3 linked regions of the Homo sapiens genome follow. The protein of the gene in region 2 interacts with the protein of the main gene of each other region in a pairwise test. Each region holds a gene or a part of one and is shown on either strand. Other genes may lie near its edges.

The links. The genes of interacting proteins can lie anywhere in the genome.
Region 1: the proteins of MTMR12 (region 2) and MTMR2 interact in binary tests that used the Homo sapiens proteins (3 or more experiments, as listed by UniProt).
Region 3: the proteins of MTMR12 (region 2) and MTM1 interact in binary tests that used the Homo sapiens proteins (3 or more experiments, as listed by UniProt).

What each region holds. Positions count from the first base shown.
Region 1 is NC_000011.10:95,858,103-95,865,154, forward strand, and holds part of MTMR2 (phosphatidylinositol-3,5-bisphosphate 3-phosphatase MTMR2), read right to left. Parts: intron 4,265-7,052; coding exon 4,170-4,264; intron 4,001-4,169; coding exon 3,890-4,000; intron 531-3,889; coding exon 429-530; intron 1-428. UniProt on the Homo sapiens protein: Lipid phosphatase that specifically dephosphorylates the D-3 position of phosphatidylinositol 3-phosphate and phosphatidylinositol 3,5-bisphosphate, generating phosphatidylinositol and phosphatidylinositol 5-phosphate.
Region 2 is NC_000005.10:32,232,901-32,239,952, forward strand, and holds part of MTMR12 (myotubularin-related protein 12), read right to left. Parts: intron 6,274-7,052; coding exon 6,101-6,273; intron 2,230-6,100; coding exon 2,062-2,229; intron 1,035-2,061; coding exon 873-1,034; intron 1-872. UniProt on the Homo sapiens protein: Acts as an adapter for the myotubularin-related phosphatases. Regulates phosphatase MTM1 protein stability and possibly its intracellular location. By stabilizing MTM1 protein levels, required for skeletal muscle maintenance but not for myogenesis.
Region 3 is NC_000023.11:150,669,574-150,673,648, reverse strand, and holds the end of MTM1 (myotubularin), read right to left. Parts: intron 2,222-4,075; coding exon 2,054-2,221; 3' UTR 506-2,053; downstream 1-505. UniProt on the Homo sapiens protein: Lipid phosphatase which dephosphorylates phosphatidylinositol 3-monophosphate (PI3P) and phosphatidylinositol 3,5-bisphosphate (PI(3,5)P2). Has also been shown to dephosphorylate phosphotyrosine- and phosphoserine-containing peptides.

The DNA.
Region 1 (7,052 bases), on a different chromosome or scaffold from region 2:
CATAGAAGTGAAATGATATAAACGTGGGAGTCTAACACTGTCTAAAGCACATAGTGGGAACTCAGGGTTTGCCTACCCTTACCTCCCTCCCAAATTGCTAGTGTTAACTGGCTCCCAATTAAAAAGGAGATTACAAATCCTAATGAAGACAACAGGTAACTTTTCATCATGGAAACACCCTGAATAGCAAGATCATATAATCATAAAATGTTAGTGCTGGAATGGACCTCAGAAATCAGCTAGTCCAGCTTCCTTTATTTCATACCTAAAGAAATTGATCTAAGAGACTAAGTTACACTTACACTATACATCTGGTTAAATGTCAAAGCAGGGATGTAAATGTAGAGATTCTAGACAGCCTAGACAAGTTTCTTTATACGACATCAATAATTATAGCACAAATTTTCCAAAGACAGGAAACATTTTACCAGGTTATTAGAGACAGGAAATGCATATTTCATTAGATTCTCAAATATGGATCTTCTTGTCCGCCCCTCAGGTTTATGAGCAAATCGTAAATTCCTAATATCCTAGAAAAGATTTAGGAACCAAGTTAATAATTGTTCACTACTTACTTAAATGAATAAATAAGGTTACTTGGAACTATCTTGTAAAATGTTAAGATCTGTGAATGTGGGATACAAAAATAAATCAGACATCAGCTCCTGGAGACAGGGAAATTATAATGGTTTATTGGGAAAAACTGAAAGAAACACAAGGTACTCTACTATGAAGCAGAATTCAGAGGGCAGGAAATTTACCTATGCTTATGGACTCAAAATAGGCCAGTGAAAGAGGTAGTATTTGATGTAACCACTGGAGATTAACGATATTACATCTGAAGATTAATATCATGACTGATACAAACTATCAGCATATGTGCTTTCCCTGTGAAAGCCCATTTTCTGTCATAAATTTCTTTATTTATAAAACCTGATTAGTAGTTGTTACATTTCATACGTGTCTTCAGTTCATTATATCTGGTGATTATTTTCCTACTAACTATCCCTTCCCAGGGTTCATTTGCATTGGACCTTCTCTTCCTAAGTCCCCTGCTACTAGTAGACTTGATAGAACTAAACCCTGCCTGAAAGTGTTCCTTCCTTCACTCCATAACCACATTCTTCCACCATCTACTGACACATAACTCTGAATAGTTTAGTTTATATTATCCAGGCTCTACAGTAAGGTCTAAAGACCAAGTTTCCCTTCCATTTGTCCCTAAGCAGTTTTCTATGCTCAGACTGAATGCAGTTATTCATGTTCCGGTTTACTGGTATCTTAACAGCACTTAGAAAAAAACTGGGGATTAAGATAATTTCAAGGGCCAGGCACAGTGGCTCATGCCTGTTATTCCAACACTTTGGGTGGACAAAGCAAGAGGGACACTTGAGGTGTTCTACTTCTAAAACAGTGGTGGGGAAAAATTGGTATTGTAGACTTTTCCTATGTTCTTATCTACCGACATTCTTTAAATGCATTGATTGATACTTGAATGAAACATGAATTGTTACAAGTTCAAGGCCAGCCTGGGCAACATAGTGAGACCTTGTCTCTACAAAAAATTTTTTAAAAAAAATTTATAAGAAAAGAATAATTTTAAGACTGATCATTTTATTTAAATGTTTTTACCTAGGCAGAATTCAAAATAGCTTTATTATGCCTCATTTTGTAGAACCACACACAAAGCCTCTCCACTACAGTGTACCCACAATACATAAGTAAGACAGTATATGATCCAAAACTAGAATGCTGGCTTTACTATCTTTTAAAATAAACATGTGCGGGAACCTAAGCTGATATCTTGTTTTCCCTCAGTAAATATCTTTATAACTAGGTGAGATACTCAGAATCATTCTGTTAACCACAGAGTTCTCTGAAAGTACCATGTCAGGGGCCCTACAAATATTTTTGTTTATTGATAACGATCCTGTTCCATGGAAAGAAATTATATTTAAAATGATTAAGATTCAAAATTATCTTCTTTCACATCGTCTTATATTCTATGCACTACTTACTCTTAAACTACAGAAAAGTGATCAGGAAACAGTGTGCTTGACACATGGTTGCCAGCGATTACACTCACAGAGCCCTTCTGACTATAATGGAAAACCACAGGCCAGGCACAGTGGCTCACACCTGTAATCTCAACACTTTGGGAGGCCAAGGCGGGCAGATCACTTGAGGCCAGGAGTTCAACACCAACCTGGCCAATGTGGTGAAACCCATCTCTACCAAAAATACAAAAATTAGCCAGGCATGGTGGCATATGCCTGTAATCCCAGCTACTGAGGAGGCTGAGGTAGGAGAATCACTTGAACCCGGGAGGCAGAGGCTGCAGTAAGCCAAGATCACGCCACTGCACTCCAGCCTAAGCAACAGAGCCAGACTCTTGTCTCAAAAAAAAAGAAAACTACAAAAATAATTACTAAGTCATTAGCTTTAATACCAGAGTCACAAAACTTCTAAGATTAGCATAACAAAGTATCTTGAATTATACACATGCTGTTTCTTTTGGCACTGGCAGAATAAAAAGAAAGGAACAATGTGATGTAGAATCTCAATGTGCATGGGTGTTAGTTAATTAGGCCTTAATAACAGTGACCTGGAGAAGTGGTACGTAGAATTAAATACCTATGACTTAATGGTAAAAATGTAACAATCTATGTTTCATTCAAGTATCAACGCATTTAAAGAATGCCAGTAAATAAGAACATAAGAAAAGTCTACAATATCAACTTTTCCACACTATTGTTTTAGAAGTAGAAAAACTGGCCGGGCACGGTGGCTCACGCCTGTAATCCCAGCACTTTGAGAGGCCGAGATGGGCAGATCACGAGGTCAGGAGATTGGGACCATCCTGGCTAACATGGTGAAACCCCATCTCTACTAAAAATACAAAAAAAAATTAGCTGGGCGTGGTGGTGGGCGCCTGTAGTCCCAGCTACTCGAGAGGCTGAGGCAGGAGAATCCCGTGAACCCAGGAGACGGAGCTTGCAGTGAGCTGAGATTGTGCCAGCCTGGGCAACAGAGCGAGACTCCGTCTCAAAAAAAAAAAAAAAGAAAAATTATGAGAACTAGAAACAGAAAAGATAGGTGATGATGAATATAACATATTTAGTTATTTAGTTCTTCCACTACGAAGTAGTGGAACTGCTCAGAGCCTTATGTTGCTAATTTGTAAATTAAAGGTAGTAATGTCTATTGTGCCTACCTCACAGGATTTTTATAAGGCTCAAAGTGAAATCATCAATGTGGAACTATGTGGTATCCTATCAGTACTATGTGCATTAAAGATGGTTATTATTATTATTATTATTATTATTATTATTATTATTTCAGACAGAGTCTTACTCTGTTGCCCAAGCTGGAGTGCAGTGGCACTATCTTGGCTCACTGCAACATCCGCCTCCCAGGTTCAAGCAATTCTCCTGCCTCAGCCTCCCCAATAGCTGAGATTACAGGTGCCCGCCACCACGCCTGGTTAATTTTTGTATTTTTAGTAGAGATGCGTTTTCATCATGTTGGCCAGACTGATCTCGAACTCTTGACCTGATGTGATCCACCTGCCTCAGTCTCTGAAAGTGTTGGGATTATAGGCGTGAGCCACCATGTCCGGCCAAGATGATCATTATTAAAAAATAAGTTATGAATTTGTGAATATATCAAAATATGTAGACTGAACTGGGCCCAAAAGAATTAAGTCTAATTCATGAATCACCTTTTCTATTACTGCTAAATTTTGTTTTCTTCTATCAATGTCATACTAAAATAACATTTCTAATTGGAAATCCATTTTATATTTTAGAAACCAATTTCAAAACAGAGGTTCTATTTAATACAAAGCTTTTCAAACCAAAGAAAATCACATACATATTATAACATTTACCTTACACACAGTTTCTAGTCCATAAGAATTTTCACCTCGACTAGAAGCACCACCAATTTTTTCTACTCTATTTATCACACCAAGGGAAGCATCTAAAACAAATGGGGGATCCTAAAGAAGGAAAGAAAAAATAATTAAAACTGAGCAATTAATACTGTCCAATTATAGAGCTGATCAAAATCTTAATCAGAAATGCTTTAATTAGAAATGATCAGAAATGAACAAAACTAGCTACAAACAACACACTCATGTACATACAAAAATCTAATCTGACTCTTACCCGTTCCATGCTTTTGAAATATAACCTATAATTCGTGACAGTCAGAGTTCCTCGTACAGCGCCAGTGAATGGACATATATAAGTTACATCTTTGGCTGAAAAAGCAAGAAGTCCACAGTTTACTATACATTATGTGCTATTAAAACCTGCTATCTCATCTTATAAAATTGTTATGATTCCTAGACTAATTTATGCTGAAAAATAACAGAACCAGTAATTTCCAGAGACCTCAGAATCCTACAACCCAAGCTTCCATCCTTGCACTAATCTGGGGAAGAAACACAGAATTAAATGGGATAGGCTGAAAAGGTGGAGGGACTTCTCATCCCATGAGACAGAATGGAAGTAAACAAAGGGGCTACTATCCTGGCTAGATAAAACAGGTGTGGGTAGCTGCAGCAGAGACGGGTGAAAGAATACTGGTAATGGTGGTATCAACAATAAGCATGTCAAGGCACAGTCGCCATCATCTCATTGCAGTTTCTATGTAACCTCACCAATTTCCTGTCCAGTTTGTCAACATTCTTCTAAAAATGCAATGTCCAAAACATATGTTATTCCACAAACTCCTGATCTGATTAATACTTATGGGGAAAATTTTACAGGTGAAATGACACACATTTAAAATATAATTTCTTAGAAAAATAACAGTATAAGAAGAGGATATTGTACTGCTGACCAACCAATGCCAGACTTTGTAAAGAAATAATCACAAGTAATGTTTTATCAAATAAACAATGGATCTACATGGCATTATGTTTTGTAAAATATGCATTAACTGATTATGCAGGATAACTTAGGAATCAGTATCTCAAAATATTATTTAAAATGCCACAGTTCATAATTTCCAATACATGGTTTTTATATCTTAAAATATTCATAAATTCCTAGTATGTCATTATTACACCAAATCAGCAGATAAAGGAGTATCTTCATCATTCCAAGGAAGTAAGGGACAATTCTGTGGAGCAACAACTTTCTAAGACCCTTTCAACGGGCTTCTGGGAAAACTTGGGGCCATGAAATATATTTAATAAGGTATTACAACCTCCTGACTTTGCTTCTCATTCAACACTTCGAAGGACTGGCTGCTTTGTATGGAATTTGAAATGAGACTGATCTTTTCACAATCATTTCTAACCTTCAAAATAGTTCCCTTAGGAACATTTTAAGTATAAACTACTTTTTTAAATCGTTTCGAATGCATATTTCATTTAGAGGGAAGCTTTTAAAATTAAATGAACCCATCATTATACAAAAATACACAAACTTGCTTTGCACAAATAATATTTTTCCCTTATGAATTTTTACCTCAACTAGAAAAGCTTTATTCAAGGTTACTAAAACATTTCTGGATTCCTTCCACAGTCAATTTTCTTACTCATGTAAGAAAACTCAGCCTTATTATCCTATATCCCACCACAGGAATGTCATTCTCAGGCCAGTGCTTTTCTGTTACATCTTCCCCTTTATTCTAAAATCATGAGATAATATACATATAAAGATGCTTCTAAAGTTCTAAGTACAATACAAAAATTCAAGGGTTTATACCTATGTTACTATTATCATCATTAGTCTTTGCTTTGTTCTGTACCCTCTATCATTCCTCAAGAGATCATGACAATGGAGAAAAGAAGATAAATACAAGAAATTCTTAGACACTGACTGGATGTTAAGAGTCCAGAAAAGAAAAAAAGAGCAGTCTAGTACGACAACCAGATTTCTGACTTGAGTAAATGGACAGCTGGTATTGATGTCAACTGAGAGAGAGAATGCAAGAAAAAGAGTAAGTTTGGAGTTAAACGTGATGATTTCCATTTTGGAGATGTTGGGTATAAGGTTCCTATGGGATATTCAAGGATGTGTGTTTAAGATAGAGGCATTTGTTTACTTACATTAGGACAGGGGTTCACACTGGAGATAACAAATTTTGGAGTCATCAGCCAATATATGGCAAGTGATGTTACAAATTTAGATATGGTCAACCGAAAAGAGTATACAGGAGGGAAAAGGGAAATGGGTCAAGGATGAAGTCCTAGGGCGTGTTGCTATTAAAGGAAGAAGAGCCAACAAATGAGACTGAGTGGTAACTTGAAGTTCTTTAATAAAGCCATATTTCATAATGGGAGCTGCAATTACGGCATTAAGTTCAGAATAAGAAAAAGAAATTGTCACAATGCTAGATATAACCTTATTAGCTAGGTTATCTTCCTATGCCTTAGTTTCCTTCCTCACCTATAAAATGGGGTTGATGTTATTCTCAAGAATATACTCTCTGAGAATGACTGAGATAGTAAGCACTCAATAATAATAACTACTATCATTATATAATAGCCAATTCTGAAAAAATGTAAGTAGGTAGTTCAGATCAAGAGCTTGGTGTATATATAAGGCTAACTGGGGAAAAGAAAAAGACTGAGAGGTTATTCAATCAAGAGCCAAGAGCAAGAAAAGACAAATAGCATGCTAAGGACTAGGAAGCTAAATTTAGTAAATAATAATCCATTTAGAATACAGGTCCTGCCTTTGGCTTGTTTTTACACATAGAAATGACACCTAGCCAAGTAAAATTCAGCATTTTTAAAATCCTTTTTAAAAATTATGATTGGTAACAAAATGAAACATGGTAGTTATATTAACTAAGAAATCATTTACTTCATTCTTCTAACATATTACTTTATTTCTCAGAGTTTATGAGTAGATATCTGTAGATTATCACACAGATGAAACAAAACAAAAGCATGAGGAAAAAAAACACAGCTTGTAAGCTCATTTTCAGTTTCCAGTCCATATTATAAGTATTAGGCTGGGCAGAGAAGGGCATCTACATACAAACAGATGCAATGGAGATGATGTATTTCATCCAAAAATTAACCTGACTTT
Region 2 (7,052 bases):
AGATCAGGCAGGATAAGGATGGCATGGAGAAGGCAGTGACACACATCGACTTAGACTTACCATCACTGCTCTCTCCTTTGTGGACTCTGTGGGGGAGAAATTCTGGGCCTGGAGACAGAGCTAGGAAATGTCAGTTAAATAATTCATCAGTTAGGGAACTTTGGGATTATCAACTAAAATGACTTTCTGACATTTGTGGCTCATAGCATAGGTCAGCAAACTGGCCACCCCTCCGGCCAAATCTGGCCTGGCGCCTGTTCTCGTAAACACTGGAACACAGCTATGCCTACTTGTTCACCTACTAAGGCTCCTTTTTTTTTTTTCAAGTAAAGGAATAAAGAATGGCTACTCCAAGGGCAGAGCAGACTAAGGCTTCTTTTGTACTACAACAGTAGAGGGGTAGTTGTGACAGAGACTTTGCAGCCCTTGACAGAGTTTTGCAACCTGTGGTTTACAGGCACAGCTCATTAAGAAAAGTCTTACTATTTATTATAATAAATGAACTGGTATCGGCCAAGTAAAACCCACACAATCAATGTTCCTTTTACTCTACTAACACACACACACACACAAACACACACACACACACACACACACAGGCAGGACAAGAGGCACGATTCCATGGAGTATGACCAGGGTGGCAGCATCCACAGTGACATCTGGCAAATGGCCCTGTTGTACCAGGGCAAAGGTGATTTGCTGAAAGCAAAGGATTCTAATGGCCCTTGACAATTTGACCATCACAAGTCTCAACTCTGCAGACTGCTTCGAGGGGTAGAAAATGCTGGCAGACAGAATCCGTAAGTACCTTTTATCATTACATGCACGGGGTCTGGGCAGCTGAAGGGGGTTTAGACATGTGGACATCTTACTTTGAAGCGCATTCCTTTCCGTTGGCCTTTGTCCAGTTTTGGCTTTTCCACATAAAGAGGGTTTTTGAGCAATGTCTGGGCTTTGGGTTCAAACTGCACCGACCAATCCCACACGGTGAGCAGATTCAAAGGCTTGCTTTGTGTATCCTGGCCTTCTCTACCCTGCCAAAACAAGCACAGGTCATGCTGTTTTCCAGGGAGGGCTGAGGAAGGCAAACACATACTTCTGGACACAGGCACCAGGAAGCATGCTCCTGCTCTGCCCTGAGAATGAATAATCATGGGCATTTAAGGCTGAGGCTACCTGTGGTTATTCACTACAAGCTTTTGGTGTGGGAGGAGGGCAAGAACAAGGACACTTCCTTTCCAGCAGTCTACACGCCAGCCGCTGTGCTGGGTGCTTCCACAGCCTCGCGAGGCAACTGTTGTTTTTCCAATTTTACATTTGAGGAAACCAAGGCTCAGAAAACTGAACTGCCCAAGGTCACAAAGCTGGTGAGTCACAAGGCTGAGCTCTGAAAGCAGGGCTGTTGCTCCTACTTCACTGGGGGATTTGGTAATCCTCCCAGCTCAAGCAAAGCCTGTAGCCCTCAGGAGGCTGCTCAGAAGCACTGAGATTATCTAATTGGGGGCACAGTCCAGGAAGGGCCAAAAGGGTTAAGATGGAAGGAAAAGGCTAGCTTCCCTGATCTGCTGGTCCCCATTCTCTTCACAGAGGAGTTCCAGGCATCAGGCAAAATCGGAGGACATCTGGTCTAACTGTCTTTCAAATGGACAGCTTTGAATTTTGCTTAATTCCCCAGCTTCAACACTTGCTTCCAGTTCCAATATTTACCATGTGACCACGAGTGAGTTACTTATCCTTTTTTTGCCTCAGCTTCCTCCAGGATAATAAAAATGCATATGCCATAGGGTGCTGTAAGGAGTAAGTATTAATACCTAAGAAGCTCTTAGACCAATGCTTGGTATGTAGTTAGTGTTCAATATCTTTTTTAAAATATGGAACGTCTCATGAGTTTGCATGTCATCCTCTCGCAGGGGCCATGCTAATCTTCTCTGTATTATTCCAACTTTGTTTAGTGTATGTGCTGCCAAGTGAGCACCATTTTATTTGTAGCATCAGTATTACTGCATCCTACTTGTGAGAAGAAGCCTCTTTAATACACAGGTTCCTAAGAGGGACTCTTACCATGTTAGTATCTTTTTGATGAGGTGAATTGAAGAAGAAGGTGCTAAAAATAGGTATATACAGGCTATCTGACAAAACAGTCAGGTAAGTCTCTGTGAATTCAAATGCCGGGGGATGCTGGTGCACCAGCTGCCAGACACAATCTAGGAAAAGCAGGAACACAGGAACCTGCATGAAAACAAGATACGTTACTTGGTGGGCAGAGCCCAGAGCAAGCCATCCTGAGTTCAGGGGGCAGCCACCTCAACAGCTGTGGAATAAGCACTTCTGAGGACTTCATTCTCTGGGAAACACAGAATACTCCATACCATCCCAAGTGAGAAATATGCTCAACTGAAATCACATGCTTGCGATTTACATGCCTATCTGTGTCAAAGACATTTCAAAGACGAAATATGTAAAAACCTCATTATGGATCAGTGTTACAGATGAGCATCTGCAATTGATTCTGATAATAGAAAACACTAACTTAGAACCCCAATTAAGCAAAATATTATCTCCTCCAAAAAAATTCCATTCTTCCATTAGTAGTACTGTATTACCAAACAATGTACTTAATTATGAGTGCTACTTTGAATTTTGTCAATGAAAAGTTACGGGGGGTGGGAGGGAACTTCTATTCCCCACCTGCCCACACACTAACTGACAGGGTTTGATCTTGGAGACCAACGTGGAAGGAGAAGCCTCCTGTCCACCCCGCAGTGAGGGCCCAGAAGACAACGGGGATGGGAGACAAGGGAGAAGCAGTGAAAGTGAGTTTCAAAATGTTTTCAAAATGCATCTTTACAAATCCACAAGCCTCATTTATTAGCTCCCAGAGGCGAGCCCTTGATGAGCAGGGAGAGTAGTTTCTAGTGTGCTTTATCATTTAGAAAGCGCTTATCCTCCCTGATTAACCAGTGATCCTGCCAGGGGGCTAAGAGAAGCTATGTTAGTCTCTCCCTTACAAAGGAGGAAAGGGAAGATTGGAGATGCCTGGAGGCCGGTCCCCAGGGTCTCACACAGGGCTCATGTTTCTTTTCAATTTTCCTTCAAAACTCCAATATGTCCATGTTGAGATGCTAAGAAACATTTGTACAGCAACTTTATTTCACACTTCATTTTATGCATAATATCATTAAATAGAGTGGAAAATATTTGAACTGCAATGTATAGGCAGGGCAATAGGCTCAGAAAATACAAGTGACTTCTCCAAGGGCTGGGTGAACAGCAGCAGATCAGGTCTCTTCTTAGACCTCAGACTCTTTCCCCATTAGACATGGTGCCTGCCAGTCCCCCTTTTCTCAAGATATACAAAAACATATGGGTAGGCGCAGTGGCTCATGTGTGTATTTCCAGCACTTTGAGAGGCTGAGGCAGATGGATCGCCTGAGCCCGGGAGTTTGAGACCAACCTGGGCAACATGGCAAAACCCATCTCTGCAAAAAATACAAAAATTAGCTAGGCATGGTAGTGTACACCTATAGTCCCAGCTACTCAGAAGGCTGAGGCAGGAGGATTGCTTGAGCCCAGGGGGTTGAAACTGCAGTAAGCCATGACTGTGCAACTGTATTCCAGCCTGGGCAACAGAGAGAGACCATGTCTCAAAAACAAAACAAGGCCAGGCGCTGTGGCTCACGCTTGTAATCCCAGCATTTTGGGAGGCTGACATGGGTGAATCACCTGAGGTCAAGAGTTCGATACCTGACCAACATGGTGAAACCCTGTCTCTACTAAAAATACAAAATTAGCCGGGAATGGAGGGGAATGCCTGTAATCCCAGCTACTTAAGAGGCTGAGGCAGGAGAATCACTTGAACCCAGGAAGAGGAGGTGGCAATGAGCCAAGATTGTGCCATTGCACTCCAGCCTGGGCAACACGAGCGAAACTCCTTCTCCAAAAAAAAAAAAAGAAAAGAAAAGAAAAGAAAAAAAACAACCATACTCGTCTCCACAAAGTATCAGCTCTCTCTGCCTCCCATGTTATGTAAATGCCATCAACCTTTCAAATTAGTTTCTTCAAGTCCCTTCCAGGACTGAAAGATGTGATTTCTATTCAGCTCAATGGGACACAGATAAGTACAGGCCAGGCCTGAAAGAAACCATCTTGCTCAGTGAGAGAGACCTGGATCACCCAAGGAACCTGCCAAGCCCTTACGATCAGGAGCCATGGCTCTGTGTGCCCACAGCATTCTGTGTCAAGCTGTTCTGTACCACAGACAGACATGCTGACTACCTGGAGTATGAAAAACCACAAGTAACACTGCTAGCATACGTCAGCGCTGCAGGTGAGTTGATTAAAGAAAGTTTGTGTGTTTTCATTTTTCCTTCCAACAATCATCAATAAGGCAGCCAAGGGAGTGTGTACAGCTGTCATCTAGACATGTACACCACAATCTGGGGGACTCATTTTCACCAGGTGACCTAAAATGCTAACTCTCCTGTGCCTGAACTTGGAGGTCCAGGCCTGGAGCGATTAGTCCAGACAGAAGCAGAAGAGGCTATGGGGACATTCCCACCCACGCTACCACTAAGGCCCTGGTAACAGATGGCATTAACATAACCCTGTGCTTTCTTCTTTTTTTTTTGGAGATGGAGTCTCATTCTGTCACCCAGGCTGGAATGCAGTGGCACAATCTTGGCTCACTGCAACCTCTGCCTCCCGGGTTTAAGTGATTCTCCTGCCTCAGCCTCCCAAGTAGCTGGGACTACAGGCATGTGCCACCACACCCGGCTAATTTTTTGTATTTTTAGTAGAGACGGGGTTTCACCGTGTTAGCCAGGATGGTGTCGACCTCCTGACCTTGTGACCCACCTGCCTTGGCCTCCCAAAGTCCTGGGATTACAGGTGGGAGCCACCGTGCCTGGCCCCTGTGCTTTATTTCAAAAAGGTTTATGTGCAAGGAAAATTGACTCTGAATGGCCAGGTGTGGCGGCTCATGCCTGTAATCCCAGCACTTTGGGAGGCTGAGGCAGGTGGGTCACTTGAGGTCAGGAGTTCAAGACCAGCCTGGCCAACATGGCGAAACCCCATCTCTACTAAAAATACAAAAAATTCGCCAGGCATGGTAGCGCACACCTGTAATGCCAATTACTAGGGAGGCTGAGGCAGGAGATAAGCTTAAACCCAGGAGGCAGAGGCTGCAGTGAGCTGAGACTGCACCACTGCACTCTAGCCTGTGCAACAGAGCAAGACTCCGTCTCAAAAAAAAAAAAAAAAAAAAAAAAATTGACTCTGAAAATCTGAAATCATTCAGTTCCAAAATCTAAAACTTTATTTATTTTGAGATAGGGTCTCACTGTCACTCAGGCTGGAGTGCAGTGGCACAATCATGGCTCACTGCAGCTTTGACCTCCCAGGCTCAAGCAATCCTCTCACCTCACCTTCCCTGGTAACTGGGACTGTAGTCAGGCATCACCATGCCCAGTTTATTTTATTTTATTTTTATTTTTGGTAGAGATGAGGTCTGTCTATGTTGCCCAGGCTGGTTTCAAACTCCTGTTCTCCCAAAGTGCTGGGATTACAGGTGCAAACCACCATGCCAGGCCTCCAATTTTTGGATTAAGGATGCTCAACCAGTAATGGAATGCAAATATTCCAAAATCCAAAACAATTTGAAATCTGAAACACTTCTGGTCCCATGACTTTCAGATAAGGGATGCTCAACCTATATTTTCTGTAGAAAACCTGCACCCTGAATATCTTTTTATTGCAAAGACTAATTTTGTAGAAAAGGTAGGAGTCTCCCTCACTGAGTTACTTTATATTTAAGTCTTATTAATAAATATTATTCCCACTGTGAAATATGTATACACCCTTGGTGTACACAATTTAGAAAACTCTGAACATACTTGTTAATATCTCTTTCCTCTGGGAAAGGTTTCACTATTATTTAAAGTATCCAAAGTCATCACACAATGAAACGATCCTAGTTTTCTTAACAAACCTGTTTGGCTTACACTTTGCAAGCAGCAATCCTACTACATCTGATGACAGGTATTAAATAAGAGATTCAGTAGTTCTCCCTATGACGGAAACAGTCTGCAGTGAGGGAACTCACCTCCTCTTTGTCGTTCTGGCGGAGATGGTTGCAGCGATCCAAGAAACAGTGGCCACCCATGACCCACTCCTTTTGGATGAGGCTCTGGAAACCAATTCTGGTTCTGCAGTGGGGGTCCATCATCAGTTGCACCAGAGAGGAAATGAGACAGCAGAGGTCGGATGCATTCTCCTCTAGGAGAGGCCCCAGCAGCAGTGCAAAGAGGAAGGAGGGCATAAAATGTTAAAAAGTTTCAGAATGCTCTCACTTGCACAGTTAAAAGTAGGATTCCCAACACCAAGGTCTACTATTAACAGTCATGTTCTTATTCCCTAAAGGCAAGGGCCAATAACAAAGGGTTATGTTTTCAGACTGAGACATGAACTGCTCTAGCATGTCTAGTACAGGTTCTGGCATACGCTGGTACTAAATGTGGATTTGCATACTGAATAAATAAATGCAGCACTGCAAAGCTACTTTCAGCTTGTGGGGGTCTAGGTGTGCCACACAGAGACAGGAGAATCACCCACATAATGATGACCTGCCAGGCTCCGCAGGCCAAGACTAAAGCTCTTCCCTCCTAGGGTGTGGAAGCCTCCGTCACTGAACTCCTCCTGGGGTGTGGACGCCTCCGTCACTGAACTCACTATTTCATGGCTCAGCTGCTTCTCAAACTCACCTCAGACATCCCTTCCTCCACTCCTAAGTCCTCCACTAACTCTACTTTGGAGAAAGTTTAATATTTCTTGACTGTAGCAAAATTATTTCTATTTTCAGCTCTAAGGCTCTGTCCTTTTCTGTTTGAGGGGCACAGAGGTGCCTGCTTCTCCTGCCTATCCTAGGAGACAAACTCTCCTTGGTCTACTTCTACATGCCCACCTGCCATGCACTTTCCAAAACTCATTTGATGAAAAGTCCACTCACATACTTGTTTAACATTCATGACTTAGAGCAAAAGAACCACATATCTTTA
Region 3 (4,075 bases), on a different chromosome or scaffold from region 2:
GATACACTTAGTCATTTAAGAGTCCTATTCTGATTTTTTTTCTTTAAGCTCTGTTCCACGTGATCTATTCTGATTGCCAAAAAATGGTCAATTTTAGTTTACTGCTACAACTATTCAGCATTCTTAGAACGTACATATGTAAACGACATAATCTCCAACTGGCAATATTGTTTGAAGAATTTTAAAAATTCTTACCTAATGAGACGTCAACTATGGCTTATTTAACCAGTATCTTCGCATCCCTTACTATCAACTGCTGTGTTCCCTATTCAGAGCCTGGAGTTTTGCGCGTTCACTTTTGCAAAAGCCATCCTCATAGACAGTCGTGACTCTTAAAATCTGCACTGTTTAATACACTTAAATGCCCAATCTTGCTGAAATTTTGGGAGAGCCCTGCAAGGTTGCCGGTGAGATAAAAAGTACATGAAGCAGACCCGGGCAAAGAAATCAGATGGCCACCATGCACATTTCCAACACATGCACACTCACAGCCCTGAAAACAGTGTTAGGTTTCAGTTAATACATTTATTACAGCAGGTCTTTAGTCATTATTGCCATTAAAAAGTTTTCATGAAATTTCACAAAATCTTTTAGGCTATTAGTATTAGCTTTCTTTTTATGGAGTGACACTTTGTTAATTTATGAAATATTTACAGCATTTACAAAAAGTAAGAGAATGTCTAATAAAATTTCTTATACTTACAAAATTCATACATTATACTACTGTATTTGAGATGTCTTACTTGGTAGACCAATTAAACTATGACATAAAATAATTTACAAAGATATATTTAATCTTTCTTAATTCATTGAAAACAAAACCATATTAGTTATAAATAGTCCTTTACAAATCATTGTAAAACACTTCATTGTTTTAACTCGAGCCTTAGCTTTTACAAATATACTTAATAAATGAATTAGTTCAGATAGCAAATAGAACTGTGCATTTAAAATTTCACTTAATACTATAAAACAAAACAACCTGAAAAAGCAAACGGCCTGGTACTTCAAGTAAAAATTTGTAGAACCAGTTTTTATGCACGCGTGGGGTGGGGAGGGGAAGCCAACACCATTGAAATTGAAATGCATAAACACAATACTTTCAAGAATACGCTCAACACATGTACATCTGGGGCACTGATTTCTAAGGATGATGCTCTAGCAATAGCTCATGCATCCAAGACGGTAGCCCTACATTTTGGCAGATGAGCTGGACTGACTAGAGCAACATTTGCGAAAACATTCCCCTAAGCAGCAGGATGCTCCCGACATCCTTGGACAGTGCTCTCTTTGGGGTTTGCCACAACCCGAAAACCATTCCGAATTTTAGGCAAGCTCATGAAAGAATTTAGAAAATAAAACTGGCAAATTTAAAAAATGCAAATCATATTTAACTGGGCCCTGTCAGTTTTTTAAAAATATAAAAATAGGCTTCTCTGGAAAATTAGGGGAAAACATTTTCTACCCCTAAATTTCCAAATAATGAAAAACTCATCTATACAGCTATTTCTCCTTAAGTCACCACTCATGATGGTATAAAAGCTGGCAATTACTTAAACACCTTGCTTTTGGGTAATGCCTAGGAAGCTGAGCTCAATTTGGTTTTGGCAGTAACATGCATCTTTCACATTTGGATTCATCTTAGAGAATCCAAAGCAACTGTTAAGCAGCTTCAGGAAAATCCATTCCACAAACATATATCCCCTTTGATTTTAAAATAATGTTGTTTCAATTAAGCCCACAAAATATATATTGTATATATAGTATTTCTCAAGACGTAAATTAAATCTAAATTTTGTCTTTCAAAAACTGCTTTTTAAAGGTGTCAGGGTTTTCCAAAACCTCATCTCAGCTCCTTTCTTCTGATTGCCGTGTGGACCCTGTAGTTTTCTTGTAATATGTATTCTAGAAGGCACATATTCAAGAGTTTAAGATTATGTTAGTTCAAGTTCTACATGGAGGCAAATATTTTAATCTACTTTTTACAAATGCCCCAAATGAAAGTCAGCTATCGCCTTTATTTCGAGCTCTAATGCGGTGCCAGGGTCCCCCCTCAGAAGTGAGTTTGCACATGGGGCATCATTTGCGAAGGACTGGAAGGTGAAGTTGGGGGATCAGAAAGCTTGGCAGAGTTGGCGAGCTGCAGTTCCTCAAGCCGCTTTATGTATTCGTCGCGTAAGGCTAAGAGCTCCATGTAACGCTGCTCCACTGGATTCGGCTGCTGGAGAGAACCAGAGACTTGAGTTACACTTTATGCCACGCACGTCATGAGAACTCACGTGTTCCACCCATCTGCTGTGACTGCTGATTTGTAAATAAGCCCTTTACTCAAAGTTTACCATAATACATACTTTCCTTAACTACTGCCTCATTGACACATACAGGAAAGTACAACACAGAGTACTAAACACCCAAGTACTAAGTATTTGTTCACCAAGAAATACCTAATGTACACATTTCCTCACACGTGTCACTATCTTTGAAAATGTGTCAGCCGAGACACAGCTCCAGTCTCCCGTGTTGCCCGTCCCAGACCCACTGTCCTCTTTCACTCTGAGGGACAACTCTTCTCAAGTTGCCATGTGACCTTCCTTTTTGTGCAGATTTGTGACACTTTTCCTGTGAGTATCCAGCAACAAAATACAGTATTACTTTGTGTTTTATCAAAGTTTACATCACTGGTACCATCTGGTATTTATCAATTGACATTTTGACCCAACATGTTTTCTGAATTTCATCCTTGTTAAGTTGCATTGAAGGAATAAACCAGTTTCTCCACCCCTTCCCAGGCTGATGGGTAATCAGTGATTTCCAGGGCTCCTCGGTAGTGTGTTCAATGCTGTACTGAGTATCCTTGTACACATCTCCTCAAGCACATATGCGAGTGTTTCTCTAAGGAATTTTCCTAGGGGTGGAACTGCTGAGAAGTAGAATATGGTCTTTTCAACCTCACCAGATGCTGCCAAATTGCCTGCAGAGAGGCTCCTGCTGGTGATACCTGGCAGTTCCCATTGTTCTGCATTCTCACTAGAACTTGGGAGCATACGATTATTATTCTTTTTTCCAATTTGAGGGCTGTGACATGGTATGTCACGGTAGTTTTCGTTTGTATTGCTCTGCTAGAACATCTTTTCATGTGCTTATTGCCCATCTGAATACATGGCTGACAGCCATAGCGGCTCTGCAATGCTCCGCCTTGGGTATGAATGCTGGGTTTGCCCCCTCACCTTCTGTGTGCCTCCATTTCCCTATCTGTAAAATGGGAATCAAAACAGCATAGCCCTCACATGGCATTGTGTGAGTGAAGTGAGTTAATAGCATCTGTTTTGCTACAATGGTGACTACTTTGATGAGTAAACAAGGGATTGATGTTGATACAAAGGCAGAAGTCAGGCTGGAGCATAACGTGACTCTCCCAGCATGTTAAGTTTTAAAAGTTTTGTACTGAGATATAAACCACACACAGTGCAAAATCTTCAGATGTTCAGCTCAGTGAATCTTGACATACGTATACATTTAGGTAATCACACCCAGGTCAAGATATACAACAGAACAGTACTCCAGAAAGTTAATGTTTTGAAGGGATCAGGGGCAAGCACTTTCTAGAAAGCTTAAGCAATATATGAAGACCTTAATGTAAAACCCAAAACCATGAAAACCCTAGAAGAAAACCTAGGCAATACCATTCAGGACATAGGCATGGGGAAAGACTTCATGACAAAAACACCAAAAACAATTGCAACAAAAGCCAAAATTGACAAATGGGATCTAATTAAACTAAAGAGCTTCTGCACAGCAAAAGAAACTAGCATCAGAGTGAACAGGCAATCTATAGAATAAGAGAAAATTTTTGCAATCTACTCATCTGACAAAGGTCTAATATTCAGAATTTACAAGGAACTTAAACATATTTATAAAAATAAAAGATAAACAACCCCATCAGAAAGTAGGCAAAGGATATGAACAGACACTTCTCAAAAGAAGACACACAATGCGGCCAACAAAGATATGAAAAAAAGCTCATCATCACTGATCATCAGAGAAATGCAAATCAAAACCGCAGTGAGATACCATC